Linked DNA regions of Homo sapiens: regions 1 and 2 are each linked to region 3. The links come from fine-mapping of genetic effects on gene expression. A gene starts in region 3. Each other region holds a variant in brackets. All regions are shown on one strand. Distances are from middle to middle. Region 1 overlaps MEF2C-AS1 (MEF2C antisense RNA 1). Region 2 overlaps MEF2C-AS1 (MEF2C antisense RNA 1). Region 3 holds the start of MEF2C (myocyte enhancer factor 2C).

The links.
Region 1: its variant is fine-mapped to the expression of MEF2C in whole blood (INTERVAL, PIP 0.99).
Region 2: its variant is fine-mapped to the expression of MEF2C in whole blood (TOPMed, PIP above 0.99).

What each region holds. Positions count from the first base shown.
Region 1 is chr5:89,320,653-89,331,525 of GRCh38, forward strand. All of the region lies in intron 7 of MEF2C-AS1 (MEF2C antisense RNA 1), which reads left to right. Among named protein-coding and RNA genes, the nearest start is that of LINC02161, 260 kb to the right of the region's middle. The variant G/T (reference allele first, on the strand shown) is at 6,202.
Region 2 is chr5:89,298,115-89,308,987 of GRCh38, forward strand. All of the region lies in intron 7 of MEF2C-AS1 (MEF2C antisense RNA 1), which reads left to right. Among named protein-coding and RNA genes, the nearest start is that of LINC02161, 280 kb to the right of the region's middle. The variant T/C (reference allele first, on the strand shown) is at 5,014.
Region 3 is chr5:88,877,588-88,888,460 of GRCh38, forward strand. MEF2C (myocyte enhancer factor 2C) reads right to left here and starts at 5,597. Exons shown (of 11, transcript NM_002397.5): 1 at 5,368-5,597. MEF2C-AS1 (MEF2C antisense RNA 1) reads left to right here and starts at 5,743. Exons shown (of 10, transcript NR_136219.1): 1 at 5,743-5,898. RefSeq lists an enhancer at 6,655-6,704.

The sequences.
Region 1 (10,873 bases), 440 kb after region 3:
TAGATCATAAATTAAATCAGGCAGTGTGATATTTCTATTGCCCACTTCTAAAGGTTTCCACAGACTCTTGGAATAAAACACTTTAAGGCACAGTGTTTATTCTTGCTTCATGATATTTATATGTGCATGATGCTATAAATATGAGTTCAAATGCATTTTTAAATGAGCTGATGAGTAATGCCACCCAAACATTTACATTTTAGTTTTTAGAAGTAAGATGTCATAGTCTAAGGTGTAAAATCCAAATCTAGTTGGTTTGAGGCAAGAAGTGCAAATGAGTGAGAATTTCTTTTTTCCAGAATGGAAATTCCAAATGACCAAGCCACTTACCAGCTGTGTCCCTGTATGCAGGTTTCCTTACAATGTGAGAAAGGCATATTGATTCAGTGTTTTTTTTATAAATACATACGTAGTGGTTCATCAATCATATGAGGTTGGGTGGTTACCTTATGGTAACTCTATAAGTCATTATCAGTGTAGTAAGGAGTCATAAGCTCCAGTTAGAATATTGTTTTCATAGTCTATCTTCCATATACTCATTCCTACTTGTTAAACTTGAAAGTTAGTAAGAATTTGAGGGAAGGGGAAGGGGAAAGGGAACAAGAACCATTCATGTGGATCATCATTATTTTTTTAGTCCAGGACTAATTTTGCTATGGTTTATCTGTCTGTTCCCTTGTTCCTCTGCCCCTTCACTCTGACCAGTTCTTTTGTAAAACATTTTCCTTTTACATGTATTTCAGAGATGTATTATTGTCTTTTGTTGACCGATGGGAAAAGGAAGAGGAAAAGAGGTGACCGAGTCTAATAATTCTTAAGGACAAGACCTGAAAGTTATCTTTATTTCCATTTATATCCCATTTGAAATGACTTAGTCGTAAGATTCAGATAGCTGAAAGCAATGCTAGGTAACAGGGAATATAGCTGGATGACCATGCAGGGAGTTTATGTACAAAAGGAAATAGCAGGGAATAGATAATGTGGGAAATTAGCAAGCTCTATTACAATAAGCATATCCTAACAAACTAAGCTAATATTCTACATAAAAAATATAATTTCACAGTATAACATACACAGTAGGAAACTGTTGGAGACAATAATTTAATACAAAAATTAGGTGACGTTCTATTGAGAAAATATTGCCTATTTGTATTTGCACCAAGCAGAATAATTTTTCTTGATACATAGCCTTAGAGAACTAATATGTGTGTAAAATAGTGAATATTTATAAAGTATGTCAGAGATACATGTCCAATTCATATGAAACATGTCCTAGATTTTAGGTTTTCTGAATAAAGAAGAAAAAGTTTAGTCAGTTAACTCTATATTTGTTTTTTTGGAATTTCCCCAAAAAGACACAACATATTTTCATATTTTAATGTTCTATTATACCAATTATTATGCTTTAATAAATCTTATTAGTGTGATGGGTCCATAAAACCTAATTGGTCACTGATGGAGCTTTCTCACAGTAAAAACTCTTTATTGTACTTAAGAATGACAGGTAAATTAAAGGTCCTTAATGGAAGAACAAGGGAAGTCTTGGTTATAGTATATATTTAGCTGGAATGGAGTACAGTAGTTCATGGCACGTCATCCTTCCGGTTGTTCATTAATGAGGGCAAGAGGAATGTGATATTAAAGGAACAAATCGATGAAGGAGTAGCTTTAAAGGCAAAAATAGTATGATTTCAAGAATGCAAAGCAATAGCACTCACTTCCAGTCTCCCAGTAGAGAAATCTGGTTACAATATTTCTTTTTGCTCAGTTTTCCCTCAATCTCTAGTTCATTATTGAGTCTTATTGCCTAGCCTCCATAAATACCTTGATCTATCCCCTGCTCTTTTCCCAATGTTGCTAGTCTATGTTAAATCTAGTTTATTGCAACAAGCCCCCTAACTACTTTTCTTGCTGTTCATCACACGCTTTTGTACTATACTGCCCACGCCTGTCATAGTGCATTACCCAAAGTACACGTCTGTGAATGTTTTCCCCCTAGAATCCTTTGATAGCTCTCCATGATTTTAAGGATAGAATAGTGTCCTTAGCTCAGCATACATGGCCCTTCATAATCTGGCTTTTGCTATCAATATAGTTTCACCTGTTGTAGTTTCTACATATGTTCTCTCTAAAAATAAAATTATTTCTAATTCCCTGGATATATCCTATAGTTTCATACTTCTAGGCCTTAAAGAACATCATCTCCACTTTGTCTACTTGGCTTTCTTCAATTTCATCTTCAGGATTGAGCTCAGATTTCACTGAAAGAAAAACAAGCAATACAACCTTCTCTAGATGATTTTCTACTTCTGGCCTGGCGTGGTGGCTCATGCCTGTAATCCCAGCACTCGGGAGGCCAAGGCTGATGGATCACGTGAAGTCAAGAGTTCAAGACCAGCCTGGCCAACATGGGGAAACCGCATCTCTACTAAAAATACAAAAAATAGCTCAGCATGGTGGTGGGTGCCTGTAATCCCAGATACTTGGGAGGTTGAGGCAGGGGAATCGCTTGAACCTGGGAGGAGGAGGTTGCAGTGAGCCAAGTTGTGCCACTGCACTCCAGCCTGAGTGACAGAGAAAGACTGTCTCAGAAAAATAAAATAAAAGTAGAATTTTCTACTTCTAACATCAGGGTTAAGGGCTCCTGTCCTGGGCACTGATTATATCTCAGTCATGTCTCTGTCAGACTACCTGTTGCACTATATTGCATCTCACTATGTTGTATTATATGCTACAGATCAGTCTGGTCTGTGTGTTCCTTGAGACCATAGACTATGTCTTTTATCTCCACCTTCCTTACACCTAGCCCTTTTATAAAAGCCAATAGCTACTCTTTGAGAGCTTGCTTAAGAGAATTAGTTGATAAAGTAATGATAGAAATGTATGGTGATATTTATAAGCCTTGTGAGCATTTTTCTTAGATGTAGACAAATCTGTGAAACATTTTCTTCATTAATTAGTGGTATTGAAAAGGTATACTAGAGAGTTTCAGGTCCCAGGCACTCTAGACAAACTGTGTATTCACTTTACAAGCCAGTCATCATATTTGCCAACTTCAATAATTCCCTATTTTATCTGAAACAAACAAACAAAAAAGAAAGAAAAAGATTCTGTTATTACTCTGTATTTAAATGAAAGATGTTGAATGAGATTGAAACAAAAATGATTCCCTCAATACAAATTCTTAGAAGGCATGGCAATTGCATTTTGGATTATGTAGCAGACCATCAGTGAATCAATAAAATATCAATGATCAAAAATTAAAAATCAATTTTTAAAAAGTAATTTATTTTTAATGGACAAATTATAATTGTATATATTTGTGGGGTACAATGTAATGTCATAATCTATGTATACATTATAGAAAGATTCCATCAAGCTAATTAACATATACATTATTTTAGCAACTTACCATTTTTTTGTGATGAGAATGTTAAAAATCTATTCTGTTAGCAATTTTGGAATATATAATACATTATTATTAACTGTGATACCCTGAGGTGCAATAGACCACTAAAATTTATATCTTCAGCCTAACTGAGACTTTGTGCTCTTTGATCAACATCTCTTTTTTCCATCCTTCCCTCTCCCAACAAGCCTCTGGTAACCACCTTTCAACTATCTGTTTCTATGAGATTGACTTTTTTAGATTTCATATCAGTGAGATCATATATTGTTTGTTTTTCAATGCAAGTGGCTGTAAGGATATCCCTCACTCTGTTTTCATATTTGAAAATAAAGTCACATTAGCAATACATTATAGAATCATAGAGAGCTAGATCAAGTTCTTTTACAGGGAAATTATCAGAAATTTTCTATTTAGAGAAACTATTTCTAAGCACCAAAGGGCTATTAGGAATAATATTTAATACACTGTTTTACTACTATTCTGCAAAATATACACCCTCCAGAAAATTACTGTAAGACTCAGCCACTTTGAACCACACCTGCCTCTGAGGATTTTTTTTACTGTTCACTCTCTAATTCTGTCTAGAGTAAAACACGTTCTTATTACGGTGAACCAAGATTACCAGGTCATCTAAATAAAACTATTGTGTCAACTGCTTGAGTAAAATTTCTATTAATTTTATTTTCTTTCTTCAATTCTGATTATTGGTTAGAACAAATACTTCGTTTAGTTATAGAATATACTTAAATCATCAACTGTTTTGGTGAAAAGGATCATTTTGCTGAAAGCATTCTACTAAAATTGACAATTGTTTTTCCTTTTTTTGTTGTTATTACTGCTGTTTTCCTTAAGTAACAAATATTTAATGGATATTGGTTACAGAGCATTCTTTCCCCTAAAGAGAATATCTATGGACTAAGAAGTCAGTAGTTTCTAAATTGTATTGCTTTCATTCCTGTTTTTAAAAAAGGAAATAGAATTCCTAAAATAACATTGTATGCAAAAAAAAGAAAAACATTCTATTTGGTAGACAAAGGAAACTCATGGGTTGAATCACTTCTTTCCCCTGAATTCTTTAAAAACTTCCTCTCTATGTCACTTTCAATTTGAAATAAACATTTGCAATAGGCATTGAAATGGTTCTTTGATATTCTTGAAAACAACCTCCCACCTATTTTCCTCTTCCTCTTTCCTTCCACTTCCTCCTTTATCAGGTCTTCTGTTTTCAGATATCTGACTCAAACATGAAAAATTAATTCAAAAACACTATTGGATCTTCATTTACCATTTTCTCAGCATAAAGGTCATACTCTATAAGGTACAGTTAACCCCATCAATCCAGAAAAATTCCTGGCTCATATTTGGAATGACACTTGCTTTTATTCCTTTTTATTAAAAAAATATTATTATTATTATTATTATTATTATTTGAGACAGAGTCAAGCTCTGTTGCCCAGACTGGAATGCAGTGGTGTGATCTTGGCTCACTGTAACCTCCGCCTCCTAGGTTCAAGTGATTCTCCTGCCACAGCCTCCTGAGTAGCTGGGACTACAGGTGCTCGCCACCACGCCCAGCTATTTTTTTGTATTTTTAGTAGAGACGAGGTTTCAACTTGTTGGCCAGGCTGGTCTCAAACTCCTGACCTCAGGTGACCCGCCCGTCTCGACCTCCCAAAGTGCTGGGATTACAGGCATGAGCCATCATGCCTGGCCTAATTTAATTTTTAGATCGAGGGAGTACATGTGCATATTTGTTACATGGGTATATTGCATACTGTGGGGACTGGGTTATTAGTGTACCCACTACCCAAATAGTGAACATTGTACCTCATAGTTAATTTTTCAACCCTCACTCGCCTCCATCCCTCCCCGCTTTTGGAGTCCCCAGTATCTATTATTTCCATCTTTACGTCCATGTGTACTTACTTTTTAGCTCCTACTTACAGACGCTTGTTTTCATTCTTGAAAAGATAGTATTGATTCAGACCTATGGACATTTGAAAGATAAAAATGTGCTTTTTCTCAGAGGGCTTTTGTGTCACCATGTTTTGCATTTTTCAGAGTCATATTTGTCAGAAACCTCACACTGCTTCATTTAGTTCTCTTTAAAATCTTAACATATGATGAAAGCATTCCTTTCTGATCTTAACCCATAATGCAGTAGACTGTTTTGGTTAACTTGTTTTAATATACTACAAAGACAAAATTATTAAATATATATTTATCTCTTCCTTTGTATATAATTTTTCATTCATAATTGATGCATTAACATGGTATAACACTAGCGAAGTGGATGTATTATTTAATGTCAAGACATTTGACTGTGAGCAAGATGCTATTATGTGAACATATTTTGAAAATCATCATGCTTGATGCAAATGCCAGTTATCAGCATGAGTCTTAACATTTGAGTGTCCTGTGGGTAAATGTATCCCTTCAAATTTCACTTTTGTACAGGGCTGTTCATATACTTCTTTCATCTGTCTCTGGTATCAAAAAACCAAATGAAAAATTTTAAAAATGAAATTGTAACTCACATTTCTTTGGGTTTGTACAATGTATATAGTTACATTGGAGCAACCCCCAATCATGGATATTTTCCCCCCTCCTTTGCTAATGTAGAATTTCTAACCTCTGTCAAAGTCTTATCCAGTTCTGTTCAGGAGTTCACAGGAGTATCTCCCAGGAGCTACAAATAATTCTATTGCATTCCTGTAGACTGCAGTTCCCAGGAAGTCACTGGAGAGTGGCCCCTCAATGATGCTAATTGTTTGGAAAATAACACTTCACGT[G/T]ATTTCAGATGATATTTATAAAATATAAACATTATATAGTAATAAATACATAGACATATAGGTATGTATATGAGTAAATGCATATTTTATTTGCTTATTTATTAAACATAGTTGTAACTTGGTTAGCAATATGGAATATATTATGGACTTTTCCCATGTGCTTGTGTATATATTTAATGTTTTTTGTTTGTTTTTAGAATTAAATACTATTCAAGAACATGGCTATACCATAGCTTGTTTTTCCAGTCTTGATATTAATAGATATCCAGTTGTTCCAATTTATTTTTTGTTATTATAAACAATACTCTAATGAACATCATTGTTCTATACTTGATTAAGTACTACAAAGTAAATTTCTGCAAGTGAGAAAATTGGGTTATAAAACATCTGTAATTTAAGTTTTGATATATCTTGTTAAATCTCCTTAAAAAAGTATAAGAGTTTGCTTTTCTACATTTCCACCATCTGTCTATCTATCTATCTTCTATCTAGTCAATATATATCACTATCTATATCACTATCTATATTTATCTATCTAATCATTCTCTCTGTTTATATCAATATCACAATCTCACTACCATTGAAGTGATTCTTTTAACCACTGTTAAGGATAAACAAAGACAATGATATTTGTTGCCCCCCCAACTTATGTTTAAGTTTTCTGCATATAGAAGAATATTAATTCATCTTTGTAAATCATTACAATATTTGGCTCATCATTCTGCAACAGTTTAACCTTAACCATACTCTGGTTTACTTAAAAGCAAAACATTCACCTCCTTGCTCTTCCAAACTGCAGAGACTGAAGGTATATGTTTTGTTTTGACACTACTTCTTAAGCAATTAGGCCTCTGAGGCGGAGGTGAATACAGGGTCAGTGGAATTTTCCTTCATATGTGTCTGTTTATCATTGGAGCAAGCTGAGTTCCTGTTATGTAGAGAGCTTGAATAATTCTGAATTTTGCTATGGTTCTGAACTAGGGCTGTTATGAATTGCTTGGTCCAAAGGTTACAGTAACAACCAACTTAACAGGCTTGTGGTTGTTTCATCATTCATAATGCTTTTCGAAACTTACACAAATCCTTCTCCATTCCTAAAGATGAGCATCCTAATTATGGCATGTCGTTTGACCTTACTCTTGAGTTTCAGATTCCAAAAACATATGGGCCTTTTAAATGGAACTAGCAAGCAATGAAAGCTTACACTCTGTACCAAAGTCCTTTCTAAGATAGGAAAAGAGGGGGTTCTTCCTTCCATTGCAAATCGTTCCTTCATGCACTTTATCGACACTCACTCTGACTCTGCTCATGGGTTTTGCGTATGTGCTCTGAAGGTGTTTATGCTCATCTCCCCAGTAAAATATACTAGCTTACACTTTCTACTGCTTAGTTACTATAAGGCAGAGGACACCGTCGGTCACAAAGAAACTGGAGAAATGAGGCAACCGCCCAGTACTAGGAGCCAATGCACACACACACACACACACACACACACACACACCTGCACAAAAATACATAGAATATTGAGTGTTCAAGGTATCGTTTGAAGAATAAGTCACAACTCTTCACTTTAGTTTTGTATTAGTTCATTCTCACATTGCTATAAAGAAATACCTGAGACTGGGTAATTTATAAAGAAAAGAGGTTTAATTGATTGATAGTTCTGCAGGCTGTATAGGAAACTTGGCAGCTTCAGCTTCAGGGAGGACTCAGTAAACTACAATCATGGCGGAAGGTGTAGGAGAAGCAGCAGGCACGTCTTACGTGGACGAAGCAGGAGGAAGAGAGAGAGCCGGGAGGCGCTACACACTTTTTTTTTTTTTTTTTTTTTTTTTTTTTTTGAGACGGAGTCGTGCTCTGTCGCCCAGGCTGGAGTGCAGTGGTGCCATCTCGGCTCACTGCAAGCTCCGCCTCCCGAGTTCACGCCATTCTCCTGCCTCAGCCTCCCCAGTAGCTGGGACTACAGGAGCCCGCCACCACGCCCAGCTAATTTTTTTTTGTATTTTTAGTAGAGACGGGTTTCACCGTGTTAGCCAGGATGGTCTCGATCTCCTGACCTCGTGATCCGCTCGCCTCGGCCTTCCAAGGTGCTGGGATTACAGGCGTGAGCCACCGTGCCCGGCCGGTGCTATACACTTTTAAACAACCAGATCTCATGAGAACTTTATCAGGAGAACAGTACTATAGGGATGGTGCTAAACCATTCGTGAGAAACCACCTCCATGATCCAATCACCTCCCACCAGGCCACACTTCCAACGTTGGGGATTACAATTTGACATGAGATTTGGGCGGAGACACAGATCCAAGCCATATCAAGTTTGCTGATATAGAAGGAATTTATTCTCTATTATCCTTACTTCAATTAATGTTTCAATCACTTTCTTAACACCATCCACAATTTGCACCAGATTTCAGACATTCTTCTATCAAACTTGTGACTTTCATTTTACCAAAAAAACTTCTACAATTGTCCAATATTGTCTTTAAATTGAATTGCTTTTTTTACTTTGAATACATTTGTTTATAAGAAAACACATGCTACTACTCTAAGAGAAAAACTAGAATCACTAAAATAAGTGGAAGTAAATACTGTCAAAGCAGAATAATATTATTTGATTCTACCTAGGTACTAATTCTTGCCACAGGTTCTGGCTCTCAGGCCTCCTCTTTTTTTGTTAAAAAAAAAAAAAGTGGGGGGGGGGGCGATGTATAGGTAATTTTTAAAGGCTAAAATTTTAATAATGTGGCATTATTCCTAGGATCAACAATGATAACTATGCACATTTTGAGAAATACTTGTGCTTGTCTGCATTAAACTAACTCTTCAACCCCAAATAAGATACATAATTGTTTCATTTGCTGATATATGAAATAGTACAATTTAGGTGTTTCCCTATGAAGCAGAATGGTAGAACTGATTCCATGAATACTTTTTTAGACCACATTTTTATTTTAAAACCTTCTCCCCCCCAAAAAGTCTGTAAATAATCAGTGGGCTACAAATGAAAAACATTCAAATGTGAGTTTTTGTCACCTCCCAGAAGGATTATGGCTCCCACATGGGTAATAACAGTAAGAAAAATTCCAGCATTTATCTTTTCCAATTTCCTTCTAGGAGTTTCTCTACTTACTCTTTTGTCTATATGTCGTGCCATCCATATTTGAAAGCCCATATTAAGGAAAGTGAAATCCTTGATATGCTGAAGATTTGGGAGATAGCTGGGATGAGAGCTATTTTTTTTTAATCCATTCCCAAGTGATCCTGTTGTTACATTGTTCCGAAAGAGAGGCATGTACTGTATTTAAAAATCAAATACTAATATCAAATATTCCACTGAGCAAAAAAAAGCCACTATATACTTTGAGTTTGTCACTGATTATCTAATCTTAAAAATAGTACCAAAAAAAAATCTGTTTTCTCCCCTGACTCAGCAAATAGTCAGATCCTGCAAGTATAAAGACTCACACCAGTCAAGTAAGTTATATATAATATTCTAGGTTAAGTCATTGACTCACATTTCAATGAAATTGTTATTTCCATAATGGGAAACCACTAGAAATTTATATTTGGATCCTCATAATCTTACATAAGTGATCAACCTACTCTATTCCCCTCTTACTCATCCACCTTGCTCATTTTTATAGGACTAAAACCATTTAGAGAACCTCAAATATTCTCAGCAGATGAAACTGCAGAATAACTATCAAAATATCTTCTTACCAGAATTATATAAATGACATTCATCAAACTGATTGATTATAGATGGCAAATATCTTAGCTGGTCCTTGGTATGTTTTTTCAAGGAGTGCAAGTATGATATATTCCTTGACTCTTTACACACTTATAGATCAACCTTTATTTTAAATTTCACTCTATTTATTTGATTAAGGAAATGTACCCAGAAAACCTTCTCAGCACCTCAAAACTGCAATAAGGTTTGTAAATGTAGTGGTTTTGGTGTCCTGATTGGCATTCTTCCCCTTACCTTACCTCCCTACATCCCAGCATCTCCCTCTCTGCCCCTTCATCTTTTTCCTCCCCTCTGCTCCCTTATTTGATTCCTTTAAAATATGTCCATTGAGTGCCTGCTATGTATGAGGTACTATTGTAGAAGGATTTGGGAAATAGTGGTAGGAGACAGTAGTAAAAGACACATACTCTTCTGGAGTTAGAACACCTGGATTTGAAGCTGAGCTCCATCACTTAGGTTAATCAAAGAGTATGTAGTAACATTCGTACTGTACAGCTGACCTCTGAGCATTTATGTGCTCACTTGGAAAGTGGGGCTTCTTCTGAATGTTGCTGAGTATGTTCAATAAGAACATTCTGGCAAATCATTTAGCTCAGGGCGTGACTGATAATAGACAATCAATAAATGATAGCTGTTTTGCTACCTATCATTATTATGGAGTCCATTCTATTGAGAATTACAAAGTCTAGAGGAATTACAAAATAATGCAATTTCATCATGCACTATTGACATACTGTGGTACAGCTCAAAGTGCAAGGAAGAGGAGACACATAAGAAGTGCAACTAAAACAGCCTTGAAGGAGGGCAATGATGCTTTTCTGGGGAGGTGACATTTGAATGAGGTCCTGAAAGGTTAGTAATGTCTGCCAGTCTGGAAGGGACCAGAGGGAGGACAGAAGTACAACTCTAGGGTGAGGT
Region 2 (10,873 bases), 420 kb after region 3:
TAGTCATTGACTAGTCTCTTGGGCCTCGGATAATAACATATTCTGCTTTTTTTGTAGTTAAGTGAACATGTGCACATATATAAATTTACTCTTTGAACTTTTTTGAGGATATTTCTTTAGTCTTCTCTGGCTTTGTGAGGTGAGTTATGTGGTCTTGTCACCTTCTAGCTTGCATGCAAGTGCAGAATGGAGAGTTCTGAATATTTATTTACAATGAAGTAATAATTTTTCTGGACATTCTTTTACATAACATTATATGAACTTTTTCTTTAGTTTTAATTTGCTAATAGTCTCTAAGAATATAGAGTAGTTATTGTTTTTGGCAAAAAGAATGTACAGTATGATATATTGGAGACATGGTAAACAAGGTTGAATCAACGGTAAAAATTTTAATGACCAGTATTTTAATTTTCTGTATTTTAGTTTTAGATGTTTTAATAGGCTTTAACTTTGTATCAGCCAAGAAAATGGTAGGAAACATCATTCACCAGATGGCTCAAATAAAGAGACAAGAAATTAATTACAGAGGTGTGAGAGGAGCAAAGGAGCAAACAAAGAAATAGTGAAGATCCAGAGAATAGCAACAGTGGAAAGTTGTTAACCTGCTAGGACCTGAACAGAAGGAAAAAGTGTTACTAGAGTCCAGTGACTACTAGAACTGTGGAAAAGGAAACCAAGAGGCAGATGAAGCTACTGCTAGACATACAGTGTGAATGCAGGTAGGAACTGGAAAATAAGCTATGGCTTTCTTCTCTTCCCATGGTCTCATCTCCCTCCAATGCGTCCCATTGGTTGACCTTGACCAGACGCCAACTAACAAGGGAGACCAGTTGATAAGTAGTAAAGGGGAGGAGATGGATTTGGGAAGACAAAAAAGAATAATCACCAACAACTTTTAGGGATAAAAGCATCTTTAATTACAGTAGTAGTTTTATTTCTTTTTACTGTAGTTTCAGCAGCAATACCATAGATTGAGGAGTAGGTGTGCCAATATATAAACAAACCAATATGACAAAAATGACTAAAATTCATTTTAGATTTCACACAGTTATTAATTAGCTCTATTGTATTTCTACAGGATTTAAACACCTTTATATTATTGGTTTTAAAAAACATTGTGTTAATTGTCTGAGCTCTTTTTTTTCCAAACAGTATCCTATAAAAAGTATCTCTATTAAAGAAGAAAACTGGAGATGGCTAGTTGAAATAGCAGTCTGTAGTCACTCTCCTCAAACACATTTTTCTAGCCCTTATCCTAGAAAAGCCTCTAAAGATCCTATTGGGAACCCCTGGACTCCAGGAAACTCATTTTGAGATACTTCGTTTTATATGAAGAAATTATAAATGGAATTTTATATTCCTTTTTAAATACATCTGTGGAAAGAAATGCTATGTCTTTAGTTTGTAGAAATGGGAACTATATTAAGACAGTTTCCTTAAGTATTCTAAACACACACACACACACACACACACACACACACACACACACACAGATACACTCACCAAAAATAACAAATAAAAGGACATAAGGAAACTTTTGGAGGTGATGGACATATCTATTACTTTGATTTCTGGTGATGGTTTCACAGGTGTATGACTATATCCATCATCAAATTGTACACATTGAATGTGTGTAATGTATTGTATATTAATAATATGTTAATAAAGCTGTTAAAGAAAAGGGAACATTTTAGTGTTATACTCAAGATGGGACAGCCTTGTTTCTCCCATCTTTTCTTTAATATGGAGTCTGTCATTGATAGTTTCAAGACTGAAGGTTAATGTTTATAATACGTGATATATAGAGAGTCTCTAGTGGGAAATATGAAGAATGTTTGATGGCTCCAGATTAGTTTATTCTCACCTCAAAACAAATTTGATCAGTCAACCGTTCAACTTATTTCTTCATCAAACAAATATTTAATAAGCACCTACTCTGTGCCAGATTCTGCACTAGGCACTTGCAATATAGAAAGAACAAGAAAATGTTTCCTTCTCTTATAAGGATGACAATTCAGCAGGGAATACAGATGACATGTAGTAAGCAAATATGTACAAAAATAACTAAATACATTTATCATATGTGGTTAAAAATTATGGTAGATGTGTCACACTTAGTCGACACTTAAAAATGTCTACTTGTAATATGTGTTCATGTATGTACATCTCTGTGTATATACATAAAGGATAGATATAGATGGACAATATAATGTGTATACTTTACAAAATTCTGATATATAACTATACACTTATGGTGGTGAGTGCTCAAGCAATTTAGCAATAGAAGAGCACTCTAGGAGACATGGAAAACACTGGTCTTCAGAATAAGGTGTGAGGTCCTCAGTGTAATAGCCGAGGCCTTTGTTATCTGGCTCCAATCCATTTTCTCCCATTACTGCTCCACCTACTCAAATAGAATTGATCTCCTGGATCTCCCTTATTCCCATCCTGTATTTATACCCTACCCTTATATGGTCTTGTTCTTTTTGTTCTCTCTGCCTGAGACTTCCTCTTTTATTTCTGCCTACCAAACAATGCCCTATTTTGAACTATTGCCTGACTAAAATCTTTATCAGCTCATTCAACTCCGTGAGTTCTTCACTGATCATTCAGCTAACAGTGATGCCCCTTGCTCTAAATCCCATAGGAATTAATCACATTTGTGGCTTATATCATATGTTATATTTAAATTACTTGATTTTATGGTTTATACACTCATTCAGTAAATATGTAATAGGTGCCTCATGTGGGCCAGCAAGTAGCAAATATATCTTTGCTGCAAATAAGCTTACACTTTTTCTCTTTGGTGAAATTTTGTTTCTGAAGAATAAGGTTATATTTATGTACCTTTGCAGTTATATTCAGAACAGACAAGATGTCTTGAATTTAATAGTTGCTGAATAAAAATTGGTGAATGTGTAAAGTGATTTCATTTAGCTGTTGGTGAATACATGTAGTGCTTTAGAATGTAAGAAGAGATTATACTAAAAGCTGCCATATTTTTCATCCTTATAAGCAACTATACCTCTTCCTACTATTTTCTATATGTAACATAAGCCTAGATTAAAACTACTGAAGATTTTACCTTTTGAAATATATGCTGAGTTAATCTTCACATATCTGCAAATTTCATATGGAGAATTATGAGAATAAATTAAAGCACATTGACATGTATTTTTTGAAAGAAAGATATTACTATTTTACTTTGCATTATATAAATAAATATGGCAAAAGTTTTTTGGGAAAGCTTCAGTATTTCAATAGCCCAGTTCACCGCTTTATGATCTGTCTGTATACACAGTGGTTCAGTTATTCCTCCATCGAAGCTGATTCCAATGAATGCCCTATAGAAAGAAGAAAGAAGAAAGAATAGAAAGGAGAAGTAGATATTTCAAATTTTGCTTAACTCTGCTGGCAGTTTTCCATGATGTCAGCCGTATTTTCTTTTTGCTCCAATGCAGGAGTTCATGGGGCTTATTTCTATGTTTCTTTAAACCTGTTCTCAAGCCATGATGCTGAAGATCCCCCCAAATACATGGCGGACCTCATTCGAGTTGTAAAGCAAATTTTTCAAAACAGGATTTTATATCTTTATTTTTCTTTGCAGTTGATGTGGCTCTGAGTTGCGTTCTGACTGAGCTCCTGAAAAACAGTACTGAGAAGCTGTCTATAAATAAGTAGTTTTGTTTACAGGAACTTACTGGGGAACTGGACTTGTACCACCTGCCATTTGGCCAATGTTGAGAAGTGAGAGGAAGGGGTTTCAGATAATTCAAATCAGCCAATCTACCTCAATGGAGGCTACCTTCTTTTTCTTATTGTTCTAAACTAGGTGTACATACCTTTTCCTAACTAATACACCTTAGATTAGAGCTATCAAGCAATGTTCTTTTACTTTCTCCTATTATACCTGGCCCTCTCTTCTTACAAGCTTTCTAAGAATGTATTTCCTTTGCCTATTGTGTCAACTAAAAGAGAATTGGGTAGGATGAAAAGAACTACATGAAAATAAACTGCCTAGATTTATGAAAATAAATATATGCAAAGTTTTACACTTACCCAAAATTCTTAATTTAAGCCAGCTAAGAAACTTCAATTCTGTGGGCTAGTGGCAAACTGGAGTCCATATGGAGTTTCTCAATTGGTCTTTCGAGTAGGTGGAATATAAATATCATGACAGCATTTCTGTCATGTCCCTTCCGTGGTCAGAGATGCTGTCTTTTCTATCTTGTTGGCCCAATGAATGGCGTGTCATGACAGAAATCATTAGTGAATTTTGTTTAATGAGGTAGCCACTCAGCTGATAAGTAACTAAAGCCAGACACTTGTTTCCTGAGATGGGTTTTGTATAAACCTAAAATGCCATTAGAAGAGGGAGGCAATTCTATTACTAATTTAAGGCTCACTTAAAGCTTGCTATTAAGGCAAATAAGAAATGAGTAGGCAAAGTTTTCTGTACATTCTGTAAAACATAAAGTAATATGAGGTAATTGGAAGATAGTCTGAAAAAAAAGCCTATCATTCTCTCCAAAATTTTACCCATTTCACCCACACTTACCAGTGTCATAGCCCACGCTGACTCCGATGGCTGAGAACATCTGTAAGATGAAGAACTAGTACTGTATTCTGAGTCACATATCCTATTTTTATTTTAAAGCCTATTTAGAGCTTGGCTACTATTAGGCTTGTCCTAATTTTCCTCAGTTACTGTGATTTTGATTACTTGCAAAATATACACTAATAGAGACTGTTTTTAGTGGATGCCTAGGATTAGAGAAATAAAGATAAGTTAGCTTGTAAGTCAAAAATTTAAATAGACTTAAAAATATAGGAAAAGACAATTGTATTTTGTTTCTTAAATGCCAAATATAATTATTAAGAAATTTTCAGAAGATGTCATCTATTAATACAAACAACAGAAGAATTGAACTGAAGATCTAGCCACTGCTCTGCTCATCACTCTGTTTTCATTAGCAATTATAAGGAAGTAGATCCAGAACTAGAGATGCATGA[T/C]AACAAGACATTGGTGCAGTAACCAGTACTTTCAGACATCACCACAAAAACAAAAACTCAGTATTTCACAACCCTGTTGCATTGGCAATGTCACAATGCTACCTCGGGCAAGGATGTTGTCTCTTTTTGGGGTAAAATAGAGTTCCTTTTTCCCTCCCACAACCTTCTCCTGTAAATCACTTTTCTTAAAGGACAAACCTAAAGTTTCTTGGTTTCAAAATCACACTCATCATGGTGAGGGAAATCCGGCTCATGCCAATTAGAAAGTCAGCTTAATGTGTTTGCTTAGCTACGGAGAGTGATTAAGGGCACCGTTCCCTGGCAAACTACTTGTGGGTTCAAATATAAAAAGCCTTAAAAACACAATCCTAAGTGGTTTACTAATAACACAATTTACATCACTCTTGTATATTTTCAAAAAAAGAACATTACACCATAGTTTAAAATTTTAGAAAATGTATTAAGCCCACGGTGCTGTCATTGTATTCACTGAGGATGGCAAATTTCATCACACAGCCTCTCCTTGTCAATATATGCTTCTTGCCCTAATCATTATAAAACTCTTTTGGGGCCCCCCTTTCTCACCTAACAAATGCTAAGTGAAATGGAGAATTAATACATTTAGAAATTTAATTGAGGTTAAAAGACATCCTAAAACATACTCCAGACTTTCACCTTGAATATTTAGTGGGTTTTGTTTTTACACTTGAATTAAATAGGTAATAGTTTAAGTGCAGCTCCAATGAAGTGAAAGGCCAAAAAAAGTGGTCATTTTTCATTTCTGGCTACGAATATAATTCTATAGGAAATTTCTACTAGCCATGATGCTTATAAAATTAAAATACAATGGAATATACACAAATGGCCAGCATCTGGGATTGTAATCTGCACCTTCGTGGGGTGGTGAAGGCTGCAAAGATCATGAGAGGAGGAGAAGAATTTAGGGCTTCCTATCATCAATTCAGGCAGTAAGTCCTGAGCAGTAACTCTGGAAAGTCACTGCCATAGAATCACCGTGGTAATAATGTGTCTTGTTTTGGGCAAACTTGTCAACTTATGAAGAGAAAAGAGAAGTCTATAAAGGGCTGGCAATTTAACTTTAATATTCAACAAATGGCAAGCTGCAAATATGAAGAGAATCTTCCTTGTTTTCTTGTTTTTCCAATTGTGTTTATATATTGATGATAATATCAACATAACATTCATTTTATAATGTAAAGCATTATGTCATAAATATTACATATATGGTACTAGCGATATATTTTCAAAAGTTTCCCTTTAAAAAGAACTATGATTCTTATAATATGTTAAAAAATAAAGAACAGGCTACAGATATATCCAGGACACATTGCAGTATCAAAGATTTCAATCTAATGAAAATTTTTTGTTTATCTTGCTTCATTACATTCTCTAAGAATTTAATTTCCAAAGAAAGGAACAACTATTAAGATTTTTAGACTTTTAATGAAATTATTGTTGATTTACCTGCGTTGGGATAAACCATACGACAGAAGAATAGAGAAACAGATAATTATGGGGAGGTTCCTTTATGTTTGAAAAAAATTCATTCCTTAACAGATAGCAGAATGAAAGCATTTTCTTTGCTCTGGCATGTTTTCCAGGAATTCTACTAGTGCATGTGGAGAGAAACATGGCTGCTGCATGGAGTCATAAACCTCAGAGGAAGCTGAGAATGAGATGAAATGTATATGTAACCCTTGTGTATGGCAAGTTTGGCAAGAAAGAAAAAGCATACTTGGCAGATTAAGATAAGGTTTCTCTCTGTTTACTGATATAGTCTCAGGTTTGCATTGTGTGATGAATAATAGGTTGGGGGAAGATATCCTTTGTTTATTCATTCATTTCATCAACAAATATTTAATGAGTACCTACTATATGCCATGCCACAAAGAGTATAAACCTAGAGACAGAATGTTGAGTCACATAGACAGTGCTCCTGATACAATTATTTGAACTGAGTTAACAATACTTCAAGGTTCCATGTCTAATTTACTGGCTAGGTTCTCAACAAAATTTCTGGATAAGTTATTTGGCAATAGATGAACTTCAAATGAATCTCTTATCTTCATTATCACACAGAATGAGTTGTCTGGAATATTGGAAATTCACTGTGCTGTCCAAATTTTCTAAAGCTATACTTTGTGAAATCCCCAAACAATATGGATACATACTTGTCTCGTTCTGCTCTTTGCACCTACAATTGATACATTAAGTGTGCTATTTGCTACTTGTTTAAAGATTTGTGCATGTGTGGACTTTTTTGTGTATTAACCACAAGTAATGTTTTAAATTGCTATTGAGAAATAATGTGAGAAAAATATCTCACGTAGAACCTCATGCAGAGAAAATGTTCAATAAATGATTTTTTCCAATGATTAAACTATACTATTTATACATTTTTCTAAATGTACAAATAGTACATTTGTAGTGTGAACTACAAATAAATATAGTGTGAACATCAAGGACGAGGAACCAAGGGAGGAGTGATTTGTGAGTAGTCATCTGAGGTCATCTAGGGAGACCACTGCCCATATCAAGAAATTCTACTTCAAGAGAAAGTCAGCATTTAGGTGTTTGTCTTGGAGAGGGTATCTAAAGTCAAGAGTTAACTACCAACAGTTGTTGTTAAGTGAAGAAACAATTGCTTCTTTCTTCTAAGTCCACTTCTGCTTTAACTCTCAAGGAGTGAGGGGTAGAAATGATTGCGGGAGGAGGAGGAGTCAGAGAGTAGATTAGTTCCTCCACACCTGCCACATGTCCTTCTGTCCACTGATCAGGCCTAAATTTCTGGGACAGATGAATCCAGTTTTTGTAGGGCCTTATGAAATTTGGAGAATGCTCTTTCAAAAGCAGAACACAAAACATACAAATGCATCATTAGGTACAGGGTTTGTAAGAGGCCCTCCAAGTTCAGAGTTCTGAAGCTTAAAATTCATTATCTTTGCAGGAAAACTAGTTCTTATGGGAGTAAGGAAAAGAGCCATGAATTAGATATGATATTGACACCTGTGTTTAATAGAGACTGAATTTTTAAATATCCAGCCTCCTCTCTCTCTTGCTCTCTTTATCTCTCTCTCTCATCATCATTGACTTATCGTGTGTTCTAACAACTGAAAGTGATTGGAAATCTAAGATATGCCCAAATTATTGTCAAATAGCACAGAAAGCAGATCTGTCATAGAATATTAAAAGGCAATGGCTAGGGAACAATAAAGTCACTTCCTGCCTGTACCCTGAAACCATTTAATATCCTCAGCTCTAATTCTTTGTAAATTAGGAAAAAGAAGAGTATTTTATAATTACTTTAAATTAAACTCATTAATTAGAAGATAATCAATTACAGATAAATAATTAAAGATAAAAATACTCCCTTTGGGTGCAATAACTTCAGTCTCTGGGTGTGGACAAAAGTGCCAGAGGAATAAGTACCAGAAGGTATATTGTTAGAGCATAGGTCTAGCTTCATTTTATTTTTCATCTCATGGAGGAAGTAACTCCTTTGCCTGAGCTAGCTTGAGTCTTGTCAGAACAATTTCAGTTCTGAATAGGAATTTTTGTTTCCAAAAAAGGAGTCCCAGGTTTGCATTCTTAGAAAATTAAAAGGGATTATGACCAGACACATGATATCTTGTAATATTTGACTCTTCATTCTAGTACCATTTTTCCTCTCTATATTTCAATGAGAACATAAAAAGTCCAGAAACAACTGTCTAGAAACTGATGCATTAAATTTGTGGGAATTTCTGGGAGTAAATAAATGAAGCATTAGAAGTTTGGCTAATGGCTGTCAAAAATGTTTGGATGAATAATATTTAGAAAATTGATTTGTGAGATTCTGTTATCAGGAAATATATATATAATACTTTAAGTTCTGGGATACATTGCAGAATGTGTAGGTTTGTTACATATGTATACACATGCCACTGTGGCTTGCTGCACCCATCAACCCGTCATCTACATTAGGTATTTCTCCTAATACTATCCCTCCCCTAGCCACCCACCCTCCAACAGGCCCTGGTGTGTGATGTTCCCCTCCCTATGTCCATGTGTTCTCATTGTTCAACTCCCACTTAATAAGTGAGAACACGCGGTGTTTGGTTTTCTGTTCCTCTGTTAGTTTGTTGAGAATGATGGTTTCCAGCTTCCTCCATGTCCCTGCAAAGGACATGAACTCATCCTTTTTCATGGCTGCATTGTATTCCATGGTGTATGTGTGCCACATTTTCTTTATCCAGTGTATCATTGATGGGCATTTAGGTTGGTTCCAAGTCATTGCTATTGTGAATAGTGCTGCAATAAACCTATGTGTGCATGTGTCTTTATAGTAGAATGATTTATAATCCTTTGGGTATATACTCTGTAATGGGATTGCTGGGTCAAATGGTATTTCTGGTTCTAGATCCTTGAGGAATTGCCACACTGTCTCCCACAATGATTGAACTAATTTGCACTCCCACCAACAGTGTCAAAGCATTCCTATTTCTCCACATCCTCTGCTTTATAGCATCCTCTGCTTTATAGGTGTTAACCTATATTGTTTTAAGGGTTCATTGACTGCCTAATAAATATCTTCTCAAAGTCTGGACAAAAACATTCTCAAAAAAAGTATATGTTCCTTTCTCTGTCCCTAGACAATAAACCACTTGAGGATAAATCTGTGTGTATATTACTTGTGAGTCCTCAGAGCCTACCACATTGCTTGGAACATAATAGGCACCCATTTATATTTTTAAATAAATGAATGGAATCATCAAATCTACTACCAAAGTGGTATGTTGGAAAAATGTTATTAATAATTAAGGTGGATAACAGGGAAGGAAGATTAGTACGTGGTTCTACTTCTGACTTCATATAACTGCCTGAATGTCCATTTTAGTAGTTGTCAAAAATTCAGTTAAACTGTTTTGTGTTCCATGTATAAATGGAATCATGTAGTATTTGTCTTTTTGTGCCTGGCTTACTTCATTTAACATAATGTCCTCCAGTTCATCCATGTTGTTGCAAATGATAAGATTTCACAGAAATAGGGAGTAAAACAGTGGTTACCAGAGGCTGGGGAGTAGGGGATAGGAGATTGGGAAGATATTGGCCAAAGGAAACAAAATTTCAGTTACAAAGGATAAATAAGTTTAAGAGATTTATTTTACATATCATATTGCATATTAAAAAATTGCTAAGAGAGAAGGTTTTAATGGTTCTCACCACACACACAAAAAAAGTATGTAAGGTAAATAGATTGATTTGAGATATATATATATATCTCAAAAACATCATATTTTACATCACAAACATACAACTTTTATTTGTCAATTAACAGTATAAAAACAATGAATAACAATTCAAGTTTGCACAATTAAATCACTATCTCTGGTAGAATTGATGAAGCCTAGATTTCTAAATTAAAAATTATTATATTAAATGAGTTTGTAACCAAAATGGCTAAAACAGACTTAGAGTCCAAGTCTGTAGGACACAAAATCACCTGCATTTTTCACTACAACAAAATGGAATGAGAGTACAGAATTGAGCAATGTAACTGTCAATCACTGAGCAGTGACAGCAGTGGTCACAGTGGTCGGCTCCATTGAACCTTCTGGGGAGAGTTGCATGACAAAATGCTGTACTCTCTCTGACCTTCATTTGGAAAGCCATGAGCCTTGTCAGGCTTGGCTAGAAGACGTTCCCTCCAATTTGTGCGAGGGGCCCTCAGAATGTACTAGTATTATCAGAAAACACCCAAGCCACAGGAAATATAACTCTCAAGTAAGAAGAACACATCTAAGTAACAATAGCAGCACCTTAAATTTGAAAGCTCGCATTTACCTAAGCAGCACTTTCA
Region 3 (10,873 bases):
AAAGAACATCAATGCCATCTTCGTATTCTTAAAAGAGAGGGGTAAGGAATGAATGCTTCCAGCACCCTTTATTTTGTTATGCCTCAATATTGTCTGTAAAATAACATGGTTACTAAAAAATTCTTGATTTGAGCAAGACCAAAATTATTACAGTGTACTTTACAGTTATTTCACGCATGAATGTTAAAACATACTGAAATTATAAAACTTTCATAGACTTTTTTTCAGTATTCAGTTTAAGATAGGTTGTCAATAAGAGCTACTTTAAAAAAAACTGACAATTTTCTTTGCTCACTAACTATAGGAGATCATTGCAAATTATTTTCTTTCTCATGCTGCTATTCACTTACGTACTGCATATTTGCTTCAATTCTCCAAGGGAAGAAATGTGGCTCTTGTGGGAAAGGTCCACCCCTTTCTACATGTTTGCTTCCTTGAACGAAAGGAACACACCCCCTTACATTCTTTGAAATGTGTCCAACAATTGTAATAGCACTGTATTATTGACTAAATTAGAAAATCTTAAGTGATAGTCAAATATTGTTAATACACTGTGTATTTTGAGTCAGGAGAACTAAATGACACATATACAGAATGAAGTTCAATCTAGTGTCTACACTTGGATGCTATAGAATGTTTGTGTTAGTAGAAGAAACTCATGAATGTTTTTGTGTACAGGTATGTTGTATGACACCTCAGGAAGAGGCCCATGAATGTTACAAGTTTTTGATGGCCTCCTTTCAATTTAAGACCCATTACAGGAATGACCCCTTTCTTTCATAAGTATATTGGATAAAAAACATTTAGAAACTTAGGAAGTAGAATCAGAGAGCTGTTTGAAATCACAAACATGCAAAAATATCACAGGTCTACGCTTACCATCCTAATGGCAGAAAACTCACACCAAAGTTGGCACCCACTAACTTCTACCTCATTAAGGCAAGCTGCTGGTCATTGGATATTGTGTTCTAACACGACTTCCCTTTATGTAGAATAATATGTTTCCTTCCAAGGAAAGTTTTTCTTTTGTTGTTATTTTCTAATAAATATACTCCATATTTATAGAAAATTTTGCATTTATCTTTGATTTTATCTTTTCTAAATAGTCTTTCTTTATTCCACTTTTACAAAGAAATTTTCAAGTGTAAAGACACAGCAGGAAAAAAAATTATATCTCTTTTAAGATATTTTAGTGTGTAAATGAAATGGATAGTCCTTGTGCAATTTATCAGGCATTTCAGAATGAACCCAACTGTATAATTCCCAGGCCTACAAAATGAAAGCTTTGTTATTTACCTATGTTTCTCACTTGAAATAAGAGTGAATATAAAGAGTGAATATATAACTGCAACTGAAGGTAATAAACTTGTTAAAACTTAGTAAGATATTGTGATGGTCAAAGAAAACCTGCAAGTGCGTGCCACAAATCCACTCAGATGAAACATCTCATTCACTAAAATTTTCTATCTTATTATAATAGTGCACAGAAAATTAAACACATAAATATTAATTTTATGTATCACAGATGATGTAGGCAATGAAAATGCAATGTTTACATTTATGGGTGACTCATTAGTGTTTTATTGTGTGAAACACTAGGAGGCATCAGTTGGGTAAAAAAGGACTTCAATTTTAGAAGAAGCAAAAAATTACTGTAAAGTTGGGTGTGTAAGAAGTTAAGATTTTCAAAATGTTATTATGTAAACCAAAACTTTATTCTCTGAAATAAACTCTCAAAACATCATATTCTGTTGTAAAGAATGATCTTTATATAACATTCATGAAATATATATATTATATATATATATAAAATTTGACCAATGAACTTTTATGAAGATATGTTTCACATATATGGATTCATAACTATGTAATTACACATTTTTATGTAGAATATATTTGGTAACAGAATAACATAATGGATATTGACTATTATGCATTTTCTGCTGAATTACTCAATAACATGAGTGTATGTTTTATTTCTGGCAAATTCTGTTTTGTGCTCTTTATAACGCCTCTGAAAATGTCTAATGCATTTAAGCCTTACAATACCTGCTTCATGTAAGCAGACAATTTAATGTTTGTTCATAAAGAAATGATGGAACTTAAAATTTACACAATGAAGACATACATAAAAAAGGACATGTTTTCTCTTACTTCACTACTGAAAGCCTGTCATTTGAAAACTGAATTTTCCATTGTTTGAATGGATCATAATGATGAAGCAACAGGGTCAAAGTATGCTTATCTAAGCAATCATTTGAAATTGAGTGTCTTGCCATTCCTCAACAATCAGCTTTTATCTTTGACCTATCAAAATAACATGTGAACTATGTAATCTGCCTTTTGTAACGTGCATAGACTCTGTTGTTCCTGGTTTTGTGAATCACCTCTGTAATCTGGTTTGATTTCCTAAAGGTGACAGATCTCGGTGAACAGTCAAGCTTTACTGAGTGCAAGACAGTCCACGCGCCTATAAGATTAAGGTACAGTGCTAAGGACGGGGATCTTAATTACCTGTCTTTCCACATGCAGCATACTGATGGAACAACAGTGATTAAATCATTTCATCGTGTCTAGGCAATCACCACATTAGTATAGAATGAATACGTGTATTTTGATAAGTTTTAGATATTAATTTGTGTGGTATTTTCTCAGAGGATGTGCTTTTGAAAAAAAAGTGTAACTTTATTAATAATCTCTTAACAGTTCATCTTGTGACCATTAATTGCATATTAAATTCTTCTATGTTGCTTCGAATCATGTCCCCAAAGCCAGAATTCTGTTTAATAACTATGTCTTTGTTGTTATGTAGCACAAGTATTGCTGCACAGCTATTTCCCCATTTTTGTCACTTTCTGAGATTTCATAGACTCAAATTATACCACACTTTAGAGTTGAGAAATAAAACCACAAAATATACTACAATAAACAGAAGAAAGTTTTAAAAGATAATGTTAAGATATGCTAAGGAGTTATTCAGTGCTGTTCTTTATAAAAGAAGTTTAAATAAAGTATTTATTAGAAAGATACGTTTGCAGTGTTATGGAATTTATTGATTCCGTTAAGTTAGGGCCAAGGAAAAAATTTCAGGTATCTTTTCCCCCAAATTTTTCAAAATGAACATGTTTACAAAGAAGAAAAGAGGCAAAGTGCCTCTTGTTATCTAAGTTTCATGGAGTTATCTAGTATTAATGTGCTTCTCTCTTGAAAAGTTAATATCTGTGATTGCACACTTTTAAAATATGAATAGCTCAGAAAAGGTGGAAAACTGTTTTTATTATAAATTGCTCATTTGTTATTGAAATAAAAAACAAATTAACATTTAATAAAACTTACACTTTAATATTATCTTTCAATATATTCCACATGCACAGCAATCAGGACGTAAATGGTGCAATTAATGAATGAAGTAAAATGCTGCCTTTCCTAAGAAGTCTGAAAAAAAGTCAAACATTCGAATGCTGTGTGAATTATATTAATAAAAATAGTAGGTTTTTATAAAATTTAGTAAAATTTGAAGTAAAGGTAACAGCCACCTACTGTCTCTTTGACGGGAGAACCAAATTTTAAGCAAATGTTATGTTTAAAGACTGTTTTGATGAAAACTTTTAGAATTGAGTTAGTAGCAGAATACATAGCTAAATGTACTTTTCTACAAATAGAATGAGATATTTGATTTAAAATATTTCTTTCCTCTTGAAATAGGATGTTAGATAGGGACATCTCATTTTACCTATCAAGTTCTGAGTCTTGCTTTAGAACTACTTCTTTTAACTTAATTTCATGCATACACTGGAAGACAATAATATGGCTTTTTAACTGCATTATCTTTAGTTGAAACTGATGGAGAAACAAAAATACTGCTTATACCATATTGGTACATGCTGAATGTTTTTAAAGACTAGCCAAAACTGACATTTTTTAAAATTAAATAAGATGTTTTAGTTTCAAATTAGAGATTGTTGATCTATTTAAAGCTAAAATTGGTATGCAATACGAGGTTAAACGGGGTTCACAGGTGGTCACATTTCCATGTCCTACCAAGTCTCTAGGGATTGGAGTTATTATACTCCACATAAACATCTTTACTCTGCAACCACAATTCCATTGCAAGGTGCCAGTGAAAGTAGGCTAGTCGCTTTTTTTTTTTTTGGACTGGTATAATGAGGTGGCTGGAGTTTCCTTTATAGCACTTAGAAATTATATGCAGTCCCCAAGCATTTCATAAGACAGTTACTATTAGAGTTAGTTTCAGATTCACAATAGTAAAACGCACTTTGTGTCAAAGCAATTCTCCACTGAGGACCGGTTAAGGAACTGGCAGAGAGCCCAATTCTACTTAGTCTACTGTCAGCATTTACATATAAAGTATTTTATACAAAAGACACGCATTCCTAAAATGTGACAAAAAAAGGCTCTCCCCAAAGAATGATAACTACTGGACTTAGAATAGTCAGAAGTGATTCAGATATAAAATTTCCTTTAAAAAGCAATAGCCATGTTCAGGGAAGGAAGGTAACATTAGCATTAAATTTAAATACTTCCACAATATTTAATAATAAAATAAACAATGTGCCACATCTATATATACTTCCTTTGTGACAAACTTTATCATCGAGTTTGGTAACTTTCATTCCAAGTCCAAAGAGAAGGCAATTTAAGTGACTTAACCTTGCTTGCTTTTAAACAGCTATGTATTTGACTTGACCTGAACAGCAATCCATATGCTGAAATCGAACGTGAATTGTGAAATGTGTAGACTACTATGGCAGGGATATTACTTTTTGTCCACACCAATTAAGAAGCCCTCTGTCAAGCCGGCACTTTGGTGAGGGAAGGAAATGCACAAAGGTATACTCTGACAGACAGCCATGCTTTAGGTCAAACTAATCCCAAGAATTAGTGGCTCAGAAGCATAACCCAGGGCAAATCAGTGTCTTTGGGGGGACTCATGGGAGCATCTTTCCACAGTGAACTAACTGCTAAATCTTAAGGCGTCTACTTCAAGGTCACAGAACATGCTGTGAAATATTAAAATCCACCAGGCTCCACACGCTCCACCATATCAAACATGCTAATGACGTGAACTAACTTCATGAAACTTTAAATACACTGGTGTGACAGGAACGAGTCAGGAGTGATTTCAATAGCTGATGGCAAACGGATACGACTATCTAAAAAGTTACTTTTAGCAACAAACAAGGAAATCATGGAATCTAACGAAAAAGAATGCACAACGAGCCTCAACTTCAGCCTTCAAAAAAGGCACAGGGATAGATAGACACAGTGCCGTGGAATATATTGATGCAGATTTTAGAGACAATACCCGGGTTTTCTATTTCCTCGAGAAATATCAGGGGTACTTACATGAAGGAAGACCCGATCAGATTAGTCCTTGGGATATTTTCCTTTCTTAAGAGAGAGAGAGAGAGAAAAAAAAAATAACAACAATAATCTTTACTTCGTCCAGCGTTGAAGTGCTTCTCCACCTGATTCAAACATGCAGCCACGGCGACCCACACAGAACCTTCAAAGTCAATCCAATAGCAGCCCGAAGATGTCTGGGTGTACGCGTGTGCTCAAGTGTCTGTGACTGCGAGCAGAGCGAGCAGAGAGCTGGAGACGATGTGTGCGTGTGTGCGCGCGCGCGAGGGGAGCGCGCGCGAGGGGGGGGGCGCGGGGCCGCGCATTCGCGCGCGCCGAGGCCGCTCGGAAGAGGAGGAGGAGGAGGAAGAAGGAGGAGGAAGAGAAGGAGGAGGAGGAGGAGGAGGAGAAAGTGGCTCTCAGCGGCCGGTCGGATTAAAAGTAACCAGACTCGTCCAGAAAACTGCGTCCAGGAAGGAAGTGACAGAAGACGAATGGGAAAAGGAGAACAGCTCACAGCGTTTGAAACATCGCGTAAAAAAGACTGGGGGTGGTGGGGGCGGGGGGGATTGAAGGATACTGGGAGGGGAGGCGGGGGTGGTAGGGAAGACGGAGCACGAATGGTTGGGGTTCTAAGCAGCACGTCCGATGAAATGTCTTTTGCCTCCTTTTTTCCCCCTTTATTTAATTTTGTCCTTGCCTTTGCTTCGCGCTGCCTTTTTCTCTCCGTCTCTCTCTCCCCCACAATCCCAAACCGTTGACTCTTTCCTCGCGAGCTGGAGAAATCATCAGTTTCACTCTTGCAAAAGGGGGGCGGGACTAGACCTCGGAGCATTTTAATAAAACAAACATACAGCAGCTCCCTCCTCACCCCTCCAGTCTCAACTAGATTGATAAATTACTCCACTACACTACTTTAATTATGTATATGGTATGCAGAATAAATCACTGAACATCAGTACCTCAATCAAGCACTTTTAAATGATAATTGCATCTTGGTGAATCAATCTTTCCATTCCTGACATTTTGCTAATTTTAGTTTTACGGTGGGGTAATAGCACATGCCATACGCAAACCTAATGACAATTCTTTATTGCACGAAATGAAGACAACACGGCGAGCTGCGGCTCCCTGCTCCTCTCGCGGCGCCTCTGCGGAGGACGCTCGGAGAGAACCTAGTCTCCCGCTGCGGCGCGCTCGCTTGCTCTCCGGGGACGCTGCGAGCCAGCCAGCAGGAAAGTCCTTCTAAAGTCGGGATCTTTCCTCTGACCAATAGGAGCGCGACCCTAATAGTTGCTCTTGTGACTTTTCCCCCTTTTGGACACGCGTTAGCCACTTCTCTCTTCCACCGGTCGGTGCGCTCCTCCGTTACTCACGCGTAAAAACCACGGTCCAGGATGTCTGCAGCACTCGATTCCAGCGTGCTTTTCCTGCACGCCCAGAAGTCGCGGTTTTCACCCTGAGAGGTTGGAGCGCTAGAAAGCGAGCCGAAAGGTTTCTCTAATGTTAGTAATGTACGAAATAATAAAATAATTACCAGTATTTGAGATCTCGACTTCATCGCGGGGCCATGAACTTTCTAATCAGTTTGGAAATATTTACCGAGGAAGCAGCTTCCTCGGAGTTCCCCCCCTCCCCCCACTCTATCTTTTCCACACCTTACTGGACTTCATCCAGGTCATTAACATGTAAACCAAACCAACTTCCCAAATGCATTAGGCTACCCTAGCCGATAGCTGATGACTTCACTTATCCTGAAGAGTTTCAGCTGCACAGGAAGCAGAAATAGAGACTGATAAGGGAGGATACTTATGTTAAGGTTAAAGCATGATAAACACTTTTCCTTACAAAAAAAAAAAAAAAAGGCTTTAATATTTAGGCTACTAGAGATTGGGCACCTCCCGCCCTAACCAACTGTTAATATATACCATGCCCAATAAAGCCAAAGATAAAATACATCAACTAGTATAGAATCATGAAAAGACAAGATTGCATGCCAGTAGAATTATAGATTACATAAAATGTTTAAACCAAACTATTTTTTAAAAAATATTGTGAAAGCAAGAAGGGAAAATTAATAGAACATGGAATATATGAGATTAGACAATAGTATATTGAAATATCTAGCTAACTAAAGATTTCCTCACTTTAGAAAATTCCTTTTAGCACTACGTTTAACCCAATGACTAGTTGTATTTCCTGTTAAGTTCAGCAATATGCCTCCAGATGACTATTTTAATATATGAGGACAGTATGGTTCAAAAAGCCTCCTGCTTCAATGTAGGAGGTATTTGATGTGAGTAGCTTCTCTCAGAAGAGTGGCCTCAACATTTAGGCAACTGTCCCAAGGCTTCACTTGAAAGGGGAAGGTTTATTTTATAGGCAAGTACAACTAGATCTGAACAATCTTCAAGTTCCAGCTCATCATTGTGACTATCAGCAAAACTAAGACCATTCCCTCCCTTTTATTATAGGAATGCATCACAAACTGTCACAAAGCAAAAACCATCTGAAATAGTAGTATTTCTTGCAGATTAGTATTTACAATGTATTTTGTTTGCCGGTTTTTCAAATGTTGAGTTTGCCATTACCATGAATTCATTTTAATAATATGGCAGAGAACATCTGTATCAGGTTTCCATTCAAAGTACAACTTCTCTGAAAATCCAAAAATTTAAAGGGCAAAGATATTTCGAATACTAAGATATGTCTATATATGGTGGTAAAAATAAAATTAATTTTCTTCAAGATTCACGAAGGTCCTGAAAAAGCAAAGCATTTGAAGGACCATCTAAGTTTATTGCCATAATACCTAAAATTAATGCAGTGAGTTACAACAGTCTATTTGACATGAGCAAACACATAGCCAATACATGAATTTCAGCCCTGCTGTTTTTAATGAATTATAGAGGGTATTTCTGTTTACCACAGTACACTTCAGTTTTAGATGTTCTTTCAAAAAGAAATTATTTTATTTTACCTTTTCATATTTTAAATAATTATTTAATAATACCCATTATAACAAACCCATAATTATTAATGATACTGCAAGCATTCAAAAATAAGTATAACCCCACACTGGATAATTTGAAAATAATTTGGATCTGGAATGTATCACAGTTGGCCTTTTAAAATACAGGATTTTCCCCTCAGCAGATTTAGCTTCTTAATTATGTGTGACCTAAGTTAATATTACCATTAGTTTTCTTCCCATGAGCCTTTACAGTTGAAGCAGAAGAGATATGAAGAAATATACATTAGAAAATCACCTGAGATTTAAAATTATTCATGAGTAATCCACAAAGTAGTTAATCCAGAGTGTGCTTTGTATTCTTTAAATACTTCTGGACTTTTGGTTTCTGTTTCTGTTTTTGTTTTTTCTTTAAAATCATCCTGATCCTTGCCATCTAATGATACTTGGTTAGGATCAGACTATTTTCTCATGTAGGGAGGAGCTTGTACTAGGTGTCAGGAGACCTGGATTCTCTATCTAGTTCAAAATTTGTGCCTTACTAAGGGATTTGTCCTTTCTAGGCTTCAGTTCGCTTATGTGTTAAATGAGTTCTGTAACCTATTCCAGTTCTATCATTGGAAAACAGAAAATGTTTCTACCCTTTAAACCAATTGGAAGGTAGGGTCTATCCAGTTAAATAATAGGTGACAATTCCTTTAAAAGAAAATTATGTCTGGGATTGATGTACTACTGTACCAGCTTTTATTTTTTTCTAATCACCAAATATTTCTCCTACATTAAGTTGTAAATGCTTTATTGTTAATGTAAATATAGAGTCACTTGTTTTTCCCTCAAAAGAATTATGTTTAGCAATATATTTAATTAAAGTGTCATAGAAGTTACAGAGAGCATGCTCCTCGGGATTTTAACTCCAGGGAAAGCTAATATTGCAATTTCTGTTCAGAGCTGCATACCATCTTACTCCAACCTCCTCTCTTCACTACTTCCCTACATTAAAGCAGCGGTCCACTAAAGCCCTGTGCACTGGGTCTGCCTGCTTTTAAGCCTGGCCCACGCTGGGTGTAGCTCTTGAAGTGAGCTTTAAAAATTATTTTAAAGTGAACTGGGGCGGTTGCCACAGCAACCCACCCTGAGATGAAGAAAGGCTATAGATTAATGTACCCCTTAAGATTATTCAACTGTATAGTATTTGTTCCTCAGCCAGAATACTTTTAACACAAACATGATAAGTGAACATGGTGGTTTAGAAAAATCTAAAAAGCAGTGAAACACAAATTCCAATAGCATTACATATTTTAATCTTTGTCTAATTATAGTATTGATGATACACAGGACTTCCCATGAAATAGATTAATTTTATAAGATACAGTACTTGCAAAAGTAGGCCCTGAAAGATGACATGATCTTTAAGCAAAATGATATGTCATTGCTTATAATATAAAGTGTATGGTGGTCATTTAACTCTTTATTATTGTTATACACGTCTATTCTGTAAATACCTAAGGCCAAGGAGTTTGGCAGTTTTACCTTTATGGTAACTCTGTGGTAAATGATAAAAACAAATGTGAGCACTCACCACATACACTTCTTTACTGCCACAATCATTTGCCTTCCGTTCTTTACTTCATCTCTTCATAGAAGTTACTTCACAGTTTGCAACTCTTCTTTGGCACCTTCAAATGTGGAAGTGCAAAACAGTATATAGTATTTTGTTAATGCTGATATGAAAATACTTTCAAATAGATTTATTTCTAAAACTTCTAATCTGAAGTAACAATATTCTGATTTTAAACCAAAGTGTTTTGAATATAAGACAACTGAAATTGTCATGCATTGTGATAATAATCTTTAACATAAATAGTGCCAAATATCTAAATTTCAAAAATTCACTAGGTGCAGCATTAACCCAAGAAGAATATACAGCATGTGGAATGTCTGTGATTGAGAATTTGCAATATACAAAGGATTTGTTATTTCAAGACAAGGTTTACACATATCTAAGGATTCTATGTTTATCTGTATTTCTGTACCTTCAGTTTTATATCTGATAGAGAATTACAGAAGAATGTCAAATCCATTATATCCGAAGCTAACACAATTTGTCAAATCGGGAAATGTTTGCAATGCAGTTGAGGTTACTGAAAGGGCTTATTTTATGCATTGCCTAAAGGCCAATTTAAAATACTTTGGGATTAGTGATGTGTATTCAGTACGGTTTATAAATTCTATTACCAATAATACCTTATTTTTCCAAGCAGTGTTTAACTATACTGAGCACAGACAAATGCTCCTGTGTTCTGATTTCTGTTTTAGTCTGGCTTTCCATGACTTTGTGCACACAAATGAACCTTTCCTTGGCTTCAGACTGAGGCTAGTCCCAGAAAGAGAACCAGCCTTGAGACACATCAGACCAGGATGGTCAATATCTCTTTTCCCATTTGTAATAGCAGGAGGACTTTGCATAGTGAAGAATCATTTATAAAGCCTCTATATTTGGGTTGACATCTCTGAGGTTTATTTTTAAGTTGCTTCAGA